Regions from separate parts of the Homo sapiens genome. Here region 1 is linked to region 2. A link means that fine-mapping ties the variant in region 2 to the expression of a gene that starts in the linked region. Tissue or cell type: whole blood. Region 2 holds a variant in brackets; the other region holds the start of a gene. All regions are shown on one strand. Distances are between the middles of the regions.

Region 1 (7,815 bases), 76 kb after region 2:
TGCAAAAGCCTATCATGCAAATAGATATTGGAAATCAGAATATTCAAAACCAGAGGTGGTTTCATAGACGGGATGGGGGTGGTATGGGTGGTATGGCCATAGACAAGAAGTGGTTTCATAGAAACCTTCTGGTCTCAAATGAAGAAGCGACGTAACAATGATACAGGCTACAGTGAGTCAAATTTGTTTAAGTCTAAAAATATCCCTAGTAGTCAGGAAAAGGAAATTCAATATTTTATATTGTGTCCCAGAGGTAAAGATATCTGAATATACATAAAATGTAATAGCTATTCCATCTATTTAACTCAGGAAAACCACTGTGATCAAACATTTTAAATCAGCAAAAACAAATTACATTTTTAAATGGGTCTCATTCTTTTTTTTTCCCCAGACGGAGTCTTGCTCTGTCCCCCAGGCTAGAGTGCAGTGGCACGATCTCAGCTCACTGAAACCTCCGCCTCCCAGGTTCAAGCAATTCCCCTGCCTCAGCCTCCCAAGTAGCTGGATCTACAGATGCACACCACCACACCTGGCTAATTTTTTGTATTTTAGTAGAGACGGGGTTTTACCATGTTCACCAAGCTGGTCTTGAACTCTTGACTTCGTGACCCGCCCGCCTCGGCCTCCCAAAGTGCTGGGATTATAAGCGTGAGCCACCGCACCCAGCCTCTTTAACAATATTTTTACACGAGGGGCTACCTCAGTTTACCTCCGCATAATCTTTAACCTAGTCTCTAAAACTGGAGATGGATGGGAAGAACTAAATTCGCAACTTACTTAAAATCTGAAAAGATAAAGATGTTAAATATTTTAAGGGTTTTATTCATTTGCTCATTCTAATTCAAGGAGTCGCCTTTGCAGACACCTCTCTCCCTCTCATAACTAAAAGACAGGAACCAATTGTATAACTCCTCCCTTCCCCCTTCAACCCAGCTAACATACAAAGGAAAGGACTTTCTCTATTGTGTCCCTGTAATGAATCTTTGTTAACTAAAACCCGATTCAGAAATAGTTCTCATTTAATTTTTTTAAATCCGCAAACTGAAAACTGTAAAAATAACAACAGATTTATTATTATTGCAAGAAAAGAAAAGCCAATTTTTGTAAATGTTCTGATTATGTTTTAAGGATTTGGTCTTTCTTTGGCACTGGGGAGGAAAAAGCCAAATCGCCATCCACCCCTCAATCTACTGTCCATTTAAAAACAAACAAACAAACAAAACTAATCAGAATGTAAATTTAAAAATAAATATAAAAATTTTTAAAGAACTGACTGACCTCTTTTTTCTGTTAAAATGTCTCTAAGCTGTCCCCAAAGCTGTCTGGTTTAATCTTTTTGTAAAATGCAAACACTTACTACAAAAGCCTAATCACTGTTAAGAGAACATTCATCTTGAAAACGTTTTATATAATGTATTCCCAGTGTACACCTCTTAATCCTGTAAAACAGTTATTAATGTAATCAGCTAGGGAAAAGGATAAGAGTAGGCACTTAAAGTTCAGTTTTAATATAGGTATTGCATGGTTTTTCTCATTCTGATTTGTACAAGACACCAGAAGTGAATACCATTTCATTTTCTTGCAGAGCCATCGTTCTGGTACAACTACCTTTTTATTCCTTTCACTTAAATTATTCAGATTTCACTTTTACTCCTAGTAGCAATCACACATTTTACAAAATATATCCCACAATAGGGATAAAAGGCCTTGAGTTCCTCCAAACAAGGTCCACTTAGCTCCACAGCTGGATCAGCAGGAACATTTCTTGTACATGCAGAAAGATAAACAAGAAACCAGAAATAGACATTACCTGGATTTTGGGGGGTGAGGGGAGGAAGTGTGGCAACTGGGAATTCCAGGGTCAGGGGTGGAGATTTTTCTCTGTATACCTTTCACATGCTTTGAACCCATAAAAATGTACTGTCTATTTAAACAACTAAATAGATTTGTTTAAAAATGAAAAAAAAAAACCTTTAAAATAAAAGAATTTCAGGGACACATGATCTGCTTAGTTTTAAAATAACCTGCTTTTATCAGTAGCATCTGCTTTTACTCTGCAATAGGTAAGATACTCCTTTGAATGCAGTCGTGAGCAAACTGCCAGCTAAGCCGTTTTTAATACAGTAATGTTCCTCCAGACTGCCGCTTTCCAAGGCAGCTCGAATCCTCCGCCCCCTCCTCCCTCTGTGCATTCTGAGATCGGCTCTGCTGATTCCCACATAAAGTGGGTCCTGGCCGCCATTTTAGAAAGTCATTCACACAAGCCAGACCGCAGCACCGTCCACTAAGAACCCTTCCAAAGCTGCCTGGGACGATTTCCTCTTTCTTCTCTCTGCCCCCTCATCTTGCAGAGGGGCCAAACTCCCAGCCATAAGCATGCAATGTCTCTGGAATCTGCATAATGAGAAATGACACGTCTAGGCACATAACACTGAGGAGCGAGCGAATGCTGCAATGCACGTGCTTGTACATCGGTGCATACGAATTTCCCAGGCAGAGACCTACAGAGAAAGTCCACAGGGGATTAAAGTGAGCACATCTAAGTGGTTTTTCCACTCCAATAATGTACACCTAAATGATTTTTCCATCAAAACACTGACGATACTCGAGGAGAAGCCAGGAGGTGGGGGGCGGGTAAGGGGTGGAGCAGCGCCAGGAAGAGAAAGTTCCCATCTGCTTCCCAATCCAGCCCGTGGTCTCCCCTTCATCCTAGGGCACAGAGGTGAATTTTTGCTCCCTGCCTCCCCCCGCCCCCGCCTGGTTTCTCAGGCACGACGTAGTAAACACCGGGAGAGTCCCTGGAAGCGCGCACCTCCCCCCGGCCTGCCGAGGACAGCTCAAGCAGGTTATGAATGGCCCCACGATTCCCGGCTCCTTTTCACACGCGGACACGCGCAGACGCGCGCTCCAGCGGCGAGGGTTTAATGCCCCAGTAACAGCAACCACCAACACAATCAATGATCCTCCATTTAAAAGACAGGAGCTCCGCCGCCGCTGCTTCCATTTCCTTATCCAAGCGGCTCAAAGCGAGCGACGCAATCTATTTTTCCCATGGTGACTCATTAATGAGGACGCTCCATAATTTCCTTCACTCACTACATAGTAAGGGAAATTAAAAGCCAAACTTAAAACCTTCCAGGGTCTTAAATATCGGAATAAACTGTCATTTTCGAGGACAACCACAGATTTGCTATGGTCCCTCTGAATCTGCACCAAGTCCAAGCCAATCGTCATTTTAATAAGTGTTTTATGCGGAGGCCTATCTGTTACGGTACACAGGCATTTCACAAAGAAAACGCACTACACGCTACTCAATAAGATGTATCAACGACAACATTTATTCTTATAATTCACAAAAATATTCAGGGGAGGTTTTTTTTTTAAGCTACATCTTCTCATCGTAAAAGGTTTGGAATGTTTTACCGTTTGATTCGGGAATTCAGGGGTGGGGGGCACCAGGGTCTTAGGGCGGCCTGGGAGTGCGACCCGAGGCTACGGGCGCCGGGGCTAGCAACCTCCTGTCAGACGCGGTCTCCTCCGCCGGGGACGAGGAAGCCCAAACGGGCGCACCAACTTATTTCACACCACTCTCCACCCAGCCCCGCAAAAACGAGAAACGTTTGCCATTCCCAGTGAGTTTCAAGGCTGCAAATCCTCCGGAGAGGTCCTAGATGGTCTCTCCGGGTCCGCGACGCGACCACAGTACCTACTGCGACTTCTGTTTTCGCACCGCCTTTCCCTTCGCACGGAACCCTCCCGAAGTCAGACATTGCCGAGCGCCCGCAGAGCAGCTTGGAGTGGCGGCGCCGGACCCGGCTGTCGGGCGGGCTCGGGTCCCGGCTGCTCCGGGCCGGGCACTGCGCGCAAGGACGCGACCCCGCCGCCCAGCGCATCTCCCACCGACTCCCGGGCTGACGCGAGGGCAGCCCCGGGGCGCCGGCTGCGTGGAGGCCGAGCCTCGGTCACCTCCCTCGTCACGGACGCGGCCGCCGGGGCCCCGCGGGCTCTTCGAAGGCGGCGCGGCTTGGCCGCCCGCACCGCCGACACCCGAGGCCCAACGCCGCGACGCGGGCCGAGCGGCTGACGAGGTCCCACAGCGCCCGTGGGTCCGGGCCGGAGTCCTCCTCACCAGCTCCGCGCTCCGGGAGGGGCCGGCAACGGGCCGGGGCGGGAAGCGGCGCCCGAGGAGCGAGCGCGGCCGCGGGCCTCGTGTCACTCACCGTTTGAAATGCTCGATGATCTTCTCTTCCCGCACGTTCTCGGGTAAGTTGCCCACCCAGAGATGCCTGGTTTCCCGGACCATGCTGGGCGGCGTGCCGGCGACCGCCGCTGCTGGCTCCCCCTCGCCGGCTTCGTACGAGACCGTCAGCGCCGGGAGGCGGGTGCCGGGGCGGCGGCGGCGGCGGCTGCGGCGGTGGCGTCGGCAGCGGCGGCGGCTCCTCCGGCTCCCCCCCGTGCAGAGACCATCCCTCTCCCCCAGGTTCTGACTCTCGGGCCTCGCAGCTCAGCTCTGCCGCCACCACACACCCGAAGCCGACCCTCGCGCTCCGGCAGCGCATGCGCCCGGGCAGGGGCGGGCGGGGGAGCGGGAGGAGGGGCGAGCGGGACACGGGCGGCAGCGACTACGACGGAGCTGGCGCTGTGGCAGCCGGACGCTTCCCACTGGCGCGCGCGGCCCGACTCCCGCCGCCGCACTGCCTCCCCCTCGCCGCGGGCGCGCGCGCGTCCTCCCGCCTGCCAAGGCGGAGAAGCTGAGTTCCTCCCAGCCGGCGCGCAGGCGCGCGGACCGGGCGACGAAGTGAGGGACTACAGGCGGGGAAGGAACGCTCGCGCGCTCGGCCCCGGTGCGCAGGCGCGCAGCTGCTAGTGGAGTCCCGCTGCTTGGCGGGCTCTCGGTCGGGTTCCCGCGCCGGGCAAGGGGCGGCTGAGGAAGCAGGAGCGGTCTTTAGCCCCTCCAGCGGCAACCCCAGGCCCCGGCCTGGTGGAAGATATGAAGAGAAATGCAATTGGTTTCCACAGGGCTACGGGTCAAAGCGGCTGCCAAGGCCTGTCCCCTAGAAGTCAGGACCCCTTCGTCCTCCGCTCACCTGGCGGCCAGCTCCTGGCGTTTCCGGACACTTAGATTCCTGCCTGCTTGGGAAAGCGATCAGAAAAAGGTTGCCCTTCTCACCGCTCTGCTGAACAGCGACGGCTTCAGAAACGCATCCCATCCAAGAGTCACTGGCTTGTAACATGAAGCAACTTTTTTTTTTTTAATACGGGGTCTCGCTCTGTTGCCCAGGCTGCTGGAGTGCAGTGGCACGGTCTCGGCTCACTGCAATCTCCGCCTCCCAGACTCAAGCGATTCTCCTGCCTCAGCCTCCCAAGTAGCTGGGATTACAAGCACCCGCAACCACACCTGGCTAATTTTTGTATTTTTATTAGAGACAGGGTTTCACCATGTAGGCCAGGCTGGTCTTGAACTCCTGACCTCAGGTGATCCGCCCGCCTCGGCCTCCTAAAGTACTGGGAGTACAGGCGGGAGTCACTGCACCTGGCCTAAGCAACTTTTTTATATAGAATCTTGCGAAACCGTTTGCAAGATACCCTTGCTGATCGCTGTGGTATAGAAGGAATAAAACGGAAATGAGACAGGAATCCAATATTGTTCCCCTCAGACCATAATTTAATATTTAAACAGAGAAAGGAATTAGACCTCTGGCCTTTCCAGGCCTAAGAGCTTTTGAAACCTACAGTTGAACTTTCTTTTTTTTTTTTTTTCCTTTGAGACGGAGTTTTGCTTTTGTTGCCCAGGCTGGAGTGCAATGGTGTGTTCTCGGCTTACTGCAACCTCTGTCTCCTGGGTTCAAGCGATTCTCCTGCTTCAGCCTCCTGAGTAGCTGGGATTACAGGCATGCGCCACCATGCCCGGCTAATTTTTGTATTTTTAGTAGAGACAGTTTCTCTGTGTTGGTCAAGCTGGCCTCGAACTCACAACCTCAGGTAATCCACCCGCCTCAAGCCTCCCAAAGTGCTGGGATTACAGGCTTGAGCCACCACGCCCAGCCTCTTTTTTTTTTTTTTTCCTGAGACCAAGTTTCACTCTTGTTAGCCAAGCTGGGGCACAATGGCGCTGTCTCAGCTCACTGCAACCTCCGCCTCCCAGGTTCAAGCGATTCTCCTGCGTCAGCCTTCCGAGTAGCTGGAATTACAGGCGCGCACCACCACACCAGGCTAGTTTTTTGTATTCTTAGTAAAGACGGGGTTTCACCATGTTGGCCAGGCTGGTCTTGAACTCCTGACCTCAGGTGATCTGCCCACCTTGGCCTCCCAAAGTGCTGGGATTACAGGCGTGAGCCACCATGCCCGGCCAGTTGAACTTTTATATAAAGGCCAATTTACAGAAATTCAAGGAAAACCCATAAAATTAAGGTAACTATATCGAGAGAAAAATAAAATTATTTATAATAAAAATACACAGAAATACCAGAGGTGTGCTGCTTCAGGTGCAAGCCAGATTTTTTTTTTTTTTTTTTTTTTTTTTTTGGAGACGCAGTCTCACTCTGTCACCAGGCTGGAGTGAAGTGGTACCATCTCTGCTTACTGCATCCTCCGTCTCCCGGGTTCAAGCAATTCTCCTGCCTCAGCCTCCCAAGTAGCTGGGACTACAGGCGCAAACCACCACGCCCAGGTAATTTTTTTACGTTTAGTAGAGGCGGGGTTTCACCATGCTATCCAGGATGGTTTCGATCTCTTGACCTGGTGATCTGCCCACCTCAGCCTTCCAAAGTGCTGGTATTACAGGCATGAACCACCAGCCCAGCCAATTTTAAATACTTGGCCTCATCGATTATCTCCTTAAATACAAACTAACTTACAAACGACACTATTTGAATTCGAAAATATTGTCACCAAAACCAATGGCACTAATATCTCAGGTCACCTATGCATAACTAAATTGTTTCTTTGTAGTCTCAGCTACTGGAGAGGCTAAGGCAGAAGCATCATCTGAGTCCAGGAGTTCCAAGCTGTAGTGCACTATGATTGTGCCTTGAAAAGCCCCAGCACTCCAGCCTCAGCAACATAGGAGAAACCCCTCTCTTAAAAAAAGAAAAAAAAAAGTAAAATTGGCTATTTACATCTGGCCATTTCTCTGTCACAATTATCACATAAGGAAAGTCAAGCTAACACCCTACTAACGAAACTCATGAACTATTCAGTACTGTGAACGTGGCTGCAGTTAGTCAACTGTTGAACTGATATGCATTTTTCTATGAAGCATGAATTTGAATACAAGCACCCAAGTTTGAAGCAAATTTTAAAATCTGATGTAAAATCTGATAGACTGAATTAGCTGAAACCTCTTGGGAAAGACCAGTGTCACCATGAAGAACAGTGTCACCTCAATTGTATTAAAAGGTGCAACTGACAAGAGGATTCAGAAAAGTGTCTCGCAATTAGAGAAATAAAAGGCATGTCTCGCCTTGAATGGAGGCTTCTGTTAAAATCATGATTTTAAAAAAAAAAAAAAAAGAGCCGGGTGCGGTGGCTCACGCCTATAATCCCAGCACTTTGGGAGGCTGAGATGGACGGATCACCTAAGGCCAGGGGATCAAGACCAGCCTGGCCAACGTGGTGAAACCTGGCCTCTACTAAAAATACAAAAATTAGCCTGGCGTGGTGGTGCTCACCTGTAATCCCAGCTACTCGAGAGGCTGAGGCAGGAGAATCACTTGAACCCGGGAGGCAGAGGTTACAGTGAGCCGAGATCGTGCCACTGCACTCCAGCCTGAGCGACAGAGTGAGACTCAGTCTCAAAAAAAAAAAAAAAAAAAA
Region 2 (7,815 bases):
TGTCCCGGTCAGACTCAAATCTTTCACGTTCTCTTTCTCGTTCCCTTTGCCTGTAACTATATTCCCTAATATCTTGTTCATAAGGATCATTCCTGTAATCCCTGTATTCCCGAGGATCATCGTAGTATCGTGATTCATAGTAGTCTCCTTGGTAAGTTTCCCATTCTGAATAAAACTCTCTCCCTCGAGCTGGATAGTCCCGCCTGGAATCCTCAGGATAAGTGCCTGGAGTTCGAACACTCTCATAATATGTACGATCTTGGTTATAGTCGTAGGATGCCCTTCGTTCCTCTCTGCCAAAAAATAACAAAGATATTAGTTCTTTTGTTTCCTCATCACTTATGCATAAAATCATACATATGAAATCAGAAATTCCTGCTTCTAAAAAATCTTTTGACATTATTTAATCATTTGTGAAATGATTAGTTTGTAGTAGCTATCCACTATAGCTTCAAGTAGCTACTAGGCACTTGAAATCTAGCTAAATTGAGATGTGTAAAATACACAGCCAATTTTGTAGACCTAGTTTATAGAAAAACAACAATTTAGACTGATTATATGTTGAAACAACGTTTTAGATATATTAAAGAAAATTTCACTTTGTCTTTTTAATGTGGCTACTAGAAAATTTAAAATTACATATACAGAATTTATATAACTTACATTATGCTTCTATTGGGCAGTGGTGATTCAACCCTTTTTTAATGTTTCTGGTAACTCCGGCGTTGTGACAAAGCAGACACTAGTTACTGGACAATATCCCCACACTCCTACCTAAGTCTCCCACAAAATTACTATTCTATAAAAAGATATTCTTACAACTTGGGAAATAAATCCACTGTTTAGAAAAACAGATAAAAATTTTAACTAAAATTTTGCCATCTATATGACCTGTATGATACTGGTAACACTTCTATCTAATTCACAATTTTTAAAAAATACTGGAACCTGGTTAAACTCTCTGAACTCAGTCTCCTCACTCATAAAATGGCAGCTTTTCCTCATAAAGCTGTTAAAAAGATTAAGATAATATCTGTAAAAACTTTCCTACATAATCCTAGGCAGGTACTTGGCCTCAGTAAATGTTGTCACTTTCCCCCAGGCTGCCAACTAACAAACCAGGGATGACTGCAAGCACCATGAGAGAACTCCTCCAGTTTTAAGGAACTCACCACAGGTTTTCTCCCACAGGGACCTGTCTGGTGCATTCAAAATAGGATTAAATTTACACACAAGAACATATATTATATGAAATTAAATACACCTGTAACAGAGACCAATTACTTCCTTCACTCATTCATTCTCCGCAATGTTTGTTCTCTCATGTAGATACACCTGGCTCATTCTAGGTAACACTGCCATTAGTAGCTCGCTGAAAGAACACTAGAACTTGGCCGGACACGGTGGCTCATGCCTGTAATCCCAGCACTTTGGGAGGCCAAGGCAGGCGGATCACGAGGTTAGGAGATCAAGACCATCCTGGCTAACATGGTGAAACCCCATCTCTACTAAAAATAGAAAAAATTAGGCGGGCATGGTGGCAGGCGCCTGTAGTCCCAGGTACTCGGGAGGCTGAGGAAGGAGAATGGCATGAACCTGGGAGGCGGAGCTTGCAGTGAGTCAAGATTGTGCCGCTGCACTCCAGCTTGGGCGACACAGCGAGACTCCATCTCAAAAAAAAAAAAAAAAGAACACTAGAACTTAAGCCCCATAAAGGCACAGGCTTTGTCTTCTTGGCCAAAATTTCTCTAGCTCTTACAACAGCACTTGGCTCATAGCACTCAACTATTTGTTGAAAGAATGAACTTTAGAAAAATATATCAAAGCTGCTACTAAATGATGTTCCAACTCCTTTGAACAGCAAACGAAGCATCTAGACTGAACATTCCAACACTGGAAGCATCGATAACACATTATTTTATAAATATACATATTTATAAATATGTATATTTTGTAAATATATTTATAAATGTGTGTGTGTGTGTGTGTGTGTGTGTGTATGTATATATCTGAGCTGGAGTGCAGTGGCACAATCTCGGCTCACTGCTCTCCACCTCTGGGGTTCAAGCGATTCTCCTACCTCACCACCACCACAAGTAGCTGGGAATACAGGCATGCGCCACCACGCTTGGCCAATTTTTTTGTATTTTTAGTAGAGACAGGTTTCACTGTGTTGGCCAGGCCGAACTCAAACTCCTGACCTCTGGTGATCTGCCCGCCTCAGTCTCTCAAAGTTCTGGGATTACAGGCATGAGCCACTGTGCCTGGCCTATTATATGTACTTATATTGAACTTCCTCAGTTCAAAGAAAATATTTTATTGTGTATCTATGATATTTGGTTTAATTGGATTCAAGATGATCCTTCCATAGCTCCATGGAAATCAGATTCCTTGTCTAAATAGTGACGAGGCAGCTCATAAATAACTGTTACTAGGCATGGAATTAGGCTAATTTAACTCATTACCACCATAAATACATACTTTGAGGATGTATTTTCCACATGAAGGTGAACACATTATATACCTTCTAATATTATAAAGTGAGTAAGACACCTAGAATGGTCATTAGTTTACTGCCCATATTAATGGTAGGCTTGAGTCATATTTAAAAACACAGTATCAAGGTATCTTTTTAATTAAGCAAACTAAAACTATATCTAAAAATACGAGCTGGGCATGGTAGCTTAGGCTTGTAATCCTAGCACTTTGGGAGGCCTGCTTGAGGCCAGGAGTTCAAGACTGGCAGGATCAACACAGCAAGACCCCATCTCTACAAAAAAAAAAAAAAATTTAATAAAAATTTATTAAGTAGTAATATTAAAAAAAGTTTTGGAAGGCAGAAATATATGTATAAGCATTCATGCTGGAGCACTGTTCAGCTTAACAAATACTTATTTTGCTGGGCCCCATGACAACAAAAGAAATAAGCAGTTCTGCCCTCAAAGAATTCAACAATTTAAGCAGGGACAACACAACTGGCACTTGGACCATGTACGGGGACTCTGAGGAACTGCAGAAAGTCAGGTTCGGAGAGAACTCTGTTCACAAAACCACAGAGTATCCAAAGTGCCATAAGTAGATGTCATCTGAATCACAATGTGACCCTGTAAATTCATCTCGAGAACCACTCCGGTAAAGGGTAAGCTCAATGCACTAGCAGGTAGGAACCCTAGGTTTATCCCCAGCCCAGCCCCTTAGTGGCCTGTGATCTTATTAGCAAAAGTTCCTTCCATAAAAAGGGTTACCTGACAGAGTATTAGAGGGATCAAATGAAATACTATTGGAAAATGGGAAAGCCCTGTGCAAATAGAGTTGTCATTTGCATTCCTGAGCTTATCATTAGCATTAAAGCATTTTTTTTCATTCATGCATCAACTATTCAGTGAGATAACTTCCATTCTATGGAAGAGGCAAAGATCCTCAAGGTCTACTGCAAGGAATGCATTCCATAAGCACTGCCAACTGAAACCACATGGGGCAAACCTGGGTCACAGTGAAGTCCC[A/G]CACCCTCCTGCGTCCTCATGAGGAGATAACTGCCATTTGAGAGGGATAAATAACCATGAGAAAAAACACAGAACAAACCCAAAGCCAGTTAGTTCATCACTAAAACAAACAATGACTTTTGGCCAAGCGTGGTGGCTCACATCTGTAATCCCAGCACTTTGGGAGGCCGAGGCAGGCGGATCACCTGAGGTCAGGAATTTGAGACCAGCCTGACCAACATGGAGAAACCCTGTCTCCACTAAAAATGCAAAATTAGCCAGGCCTGGTGGTGCGTGCCTGTAATTCCAGCTACTCTGGAGCCCGAGGCAGGAGAATCGCTTGAACCCAGGAGGCAGAGGTTGCGGTAAGCCAAGATTGCACCATTGCACTCCAGCCTGGGCAACGAAAGGGAAACTCTGTCTCAAAAAACAAAAAAAAAATAGATTTTAAGTAGTAATATACAAAAAGTAACACCCACATTACATTATTCAACCCTCACACAAAACTGCTGTTTTAAAATATTTAATGTACACAGAGGATTTTAATGGATTTTGTATGTTTTAGGTGCAAGTAGGCCTCCGGGACACTTTCCACTCACATATAGATAAGAATTCCTTGTAAGCATTTACTGTATTAACAATGACTTCAAACTGCTACTTGGGAAGCCAGGATAGAGAATTTTTTTCTCTCTTGACATGAGACACACACATTCTCCTGCATGTGGCCACATAATTTTACGCTCACTTTCACTCTCTTACACTCACACAACTGAGAAAACAGTCTATCGAGCCTGACTTTCTAGCTAAAGGAGTATTGATCTTTGAAGCTTTGTGATTTGGATTCTGATCTGGTGAGAAACCATCAAAACCTGACAAGTTTGAGCTTTTGAGAATTTGGCCGTAGGGAGCATTTTTCATTTAAAAACACCAGGTAGGCCGGGTGCGGTGGCTCACGCCTGTAATCCCAGCACTTTGAGAGGCCAAGGCGGGCGGATCACGAGGTCAGGAGTTCAAGACCAGCCTGACCAATATGGTGAAACCCCGTCTCTACTAAAAATACAAAAATTAGCCGGGCATGGTGGCATGCGCCTGTAGTCCCAGCTACTCGGGAGGCTGAGGCAGGAGAATCGCTTGAACCAGCAAGGCAGAGGTTGCAGTAAGCCAATATCGCATCACTGCACTCTAGCCTAGACCACAGAGCAAGACTTCATCTCAAAAAAAAAAAAAAGCACAAAGTATTCAACGACTGTTGTACAATATTCCACTAAGAAATTAATATATATTAATACTTGCTATCATTTAAACAAAAATGAATTGGCAAGAAGAGGCAGTAGAAAGGGAATGCATTCAACAGGGCTTGTGGCAGCACAACCCTGACTTGGCTCATCTTGCCATGGAGCCCTTTTCATACTTTGAACTCAAGTGTCTAAAGGCGTTTTTCACACAAACCTTTTGTCTAACACATATAGGGGTGGAGACCTAGTGGGAACATTCCAGGAAACTTAATCAGAGGTATGTCTGGAAAAACAGCTTGATAATATGGACCAAATTTCCATTTTCAAAAGTAATCAGCTATTGAAGAATCTGGTGGCATTATCTTAAGATGTTTTACTATATTTCGGTCTGTTCAGCAGAAAAAATATTAAATACTACATAACCATGACTGAAAGTATTAACAAGAGGAAATCAGGTTTGCCCTGCACATTGCCAAAGTTGCCAGTTTACATATGCTTTGGCTTATTGATTCACTTTGACTATTTAAGAGATTCAACTTTAAAATAAAGCTCTTGATATTCTTTTGGAAGTTTTTATTTATTTATTTATTTTTTAAGTTAAATGTATGAGCACATACAACCTGGTTGTTGTCATTACTAAATATGTAGCCATTTAAAAGTTTATAATGCACTCTAACATATATTAATACATTTACTTTAAGAAGTAACTGTAAGCAAGATGATTTGTATTTATGATTAATGGTACATAAAGCAGACCAGGTGTGGTGGCTCACACCTGTAATCCCAGCGCTTTGGGAGGCCAAAGCGGGCAGAATGCTTGAGCCCAGGAGTTCAAGACCAGCCTAGACAACATGGAGAAAACCCATCTTTACAAAAATTACTCCAGCGTGGTGGCAAGTGTCTGTAGTCCCAGCTAATCAAGAAGATGATGTGTGAGGATCACTTGAGCCTATAAGGCAGAGACTGCAGTGAGCCATGATCATGCCACTGCACTCCAGTCTGGGTGACAGAGTGAGACCCTGTCTCAAAAAAAAAAGTACATAAAGTTATCACCTGGCAAAACAGTAACTCTTTCAAGTTCTAGGAGCATTCAGTGAGAAATCCAGACAGGTTGCTCCAAACCCATAGGAATTACCTGGAAACTAGATTCAAAAAAATAAACCTGTGTTTCCATATGAAGTGATAAAAGAGAAGCATTCTCTATTCTAGAAGATGAAAGTAGGGGTAAAGAGTGAAAAATAAAATTTAATGCCATCTTAAGTTTCTGTATTAAAACTATTAAAACTCAAGCTACACTGGTAAGTTTAAAATACATACCTTCTTTCGGCTAACATTTCATAAAAGTCTCTGATGTCTTGACCAGATTTCTCCATGCAGTGATAAAAAGCCAGCTGACTTTCCCGATTTGCAAAATCCACCTTTAAAAAAAAAAAGAGGTGTTTGATGCAAGTTTCAAATTTTAATGATGGAAAAATGTTATCAGATTTGTAAATTCTTCACAACATAGCCCTTCTGAGAAAATTTCAGGAAACAGCAATGTATCTCAAGTAAAACAGTCCTCATCACTGAAACTATATTAACCTGAAATCTCTCAAATTCTGTATAAACCGTGATAAAAGAATGAAATTTATAAAGTTTCAAACCCAATTGTGAAGGAGTGAAAAAAGCAAAATGGAAAACTGAAATGGCAATTAAGTAATCAGATCAACTAAATCCAGCAATCTCTGTTGCCAAAACTACAGTTAGAATATAAAACAAAATATGGATGAACATTTTAAACTTTATTCACAGCTGGGCCTCAAAGTTACTAAAGCATATGATGCTCATCAGCTATCAAATAGCTTATCATCTTATTTTTAAAATACTTTTTTCAACCTAACAATCATAGTTATTTCATAGTTAAGTGCATAAATTCCTTCAAACTACCATGAATACAAGTTTTTAAAAACATACACTGGACATAAAGTTATGCTTTAAGTGGCTACCCACTCTTCAGGAGAGTAGGAAAGGAAAGAAAGACATATCATTCAGGATGCTGGACTGATACTATGAGGCCCTGGGTGTCAGATACCCATAACTGTGGTCAAGCCTGCGATGAGAGTGTCTGTGTGAGCATCAGCACCCGAACACTGAGAAGCACACTTCTTTGAATGAGAAGATTTTTAGGGAAGGATCTGTGGCTAATGGTTTAAAGATGCTGTGCCCACAAGTAGCTGAGCATAAAATTGTAATATTCCCCTTAAACACTAATGATACAGCATACGTGTCTTGTAAACCACTCCCCTGGCTGGCAGCCTACAAAATGCTAGTTATTAACGGGGTGATTTCTTTTTTTTGGAGATGGAGTCTTACTCTGTCACCCAGGCTGGAGTGCAACGGCATGATCTCAGCACACTGCAACCTCCGCCTCCTGGGTTCAAGCAATTCTCCTGCCTCAGCCTCCCAAGTAGCTGGGATTAACAGGCACGCGCCACCAAGCCCGGCTAATTTTTCTTGTATTTTTAGTAGAGACGTGGTTTCACCATGTTCATCAGGCTGGTCTCGAACTCCTGACCTCAGGTGATCCACCTGCCTTGGCCTCCCAAAGTGCTGGGATTACAGGCGTGAGCCACCACGCCCAGCCCAAGAGGGTGAGATTTGAATAGGACTTTGTTTTGCTTCTGTTTAAAGTCATTCTGCACACCTTAATTTTATTCCCACCGATTTTCCTCCCTTTGGTCTCTTTTACAGCTGCTTGTGCATATTCAATTTCATTGTAGAGAACCAGGGCCATGCCTTTTAAGCGGTCAAACACCACCTGTAAAACAAACAAACAAAAAACAAGTAAGAGCCTCATCCACTGGACTTAGTGTCAGTCCCAACAAAATCCTAAGCCACAAGGACACGGATGAGAAAAAATATATTTTTATATATTTTATTCTATTAAAAAAAAAAGTGTGATGCACACTGTAGTGAACACAATAAAATGAAAATGTGCAGGGACTGTTTAGAATCATAGACATTATGGCTTGAGATATTATGCCTTTATTTTGTTCTTCTGTATTTTACTTTGTTTTCCATGTTTACTGACCACTATATTGTATTTCAGTAAAGTATTC

The links. PIP is the estimated chance that this variant, and not a neighbour inherited with it, causes the effect.
Region 1: SPEN-AS1 starts here. The variant in region 2 is fine-mapped to the expression of SPEN-AS1 in whole blood (TOPMed, PIP above 0.99).

The regions. Positions count from the first base shown.
Region 1 is chr1:15,844,556-15,852,370 of GRCh38, reverse strand. It overlaps SPEN-AS1 (SPEN antisense RNA 1), which reads left to right and starts at 4,224. Exons shown (of 2, transcript NR_024279.1): 1 at 4,224-4,263. SPEN (spen family transcriptional repressor) reads right to left here and starts at 4,664. Exons shown (of 15, transcript NM_015001.3): 1 at 4,221-4,664. The coding sequence starts at 4,303. RefSeq lists enhancers at 43-112, 2,492-3,086, 4,510-5,021, 5,022-5,534, 7,414-7,513 and silencers at 3,758-4,177, 4,358-4,927, 7,744-7,813.
Region 2 is chr1:15,920,569-15,928,383 of GRCh38, reverse strand. SPEN (spen family transcriptional repressor) reads right to left here. Exons shown (of 15, transcript NM_015001.3): 9 at 7,401-7,514; 10 at 6,035-6,135; 11 at 1-293. Among named protein-coding and RNA genes, the nearest start is that of ZBTB17, 52 kb to the left of the region's middle. The variant A/G (reference allele first, on the strand shown) is at 3,504.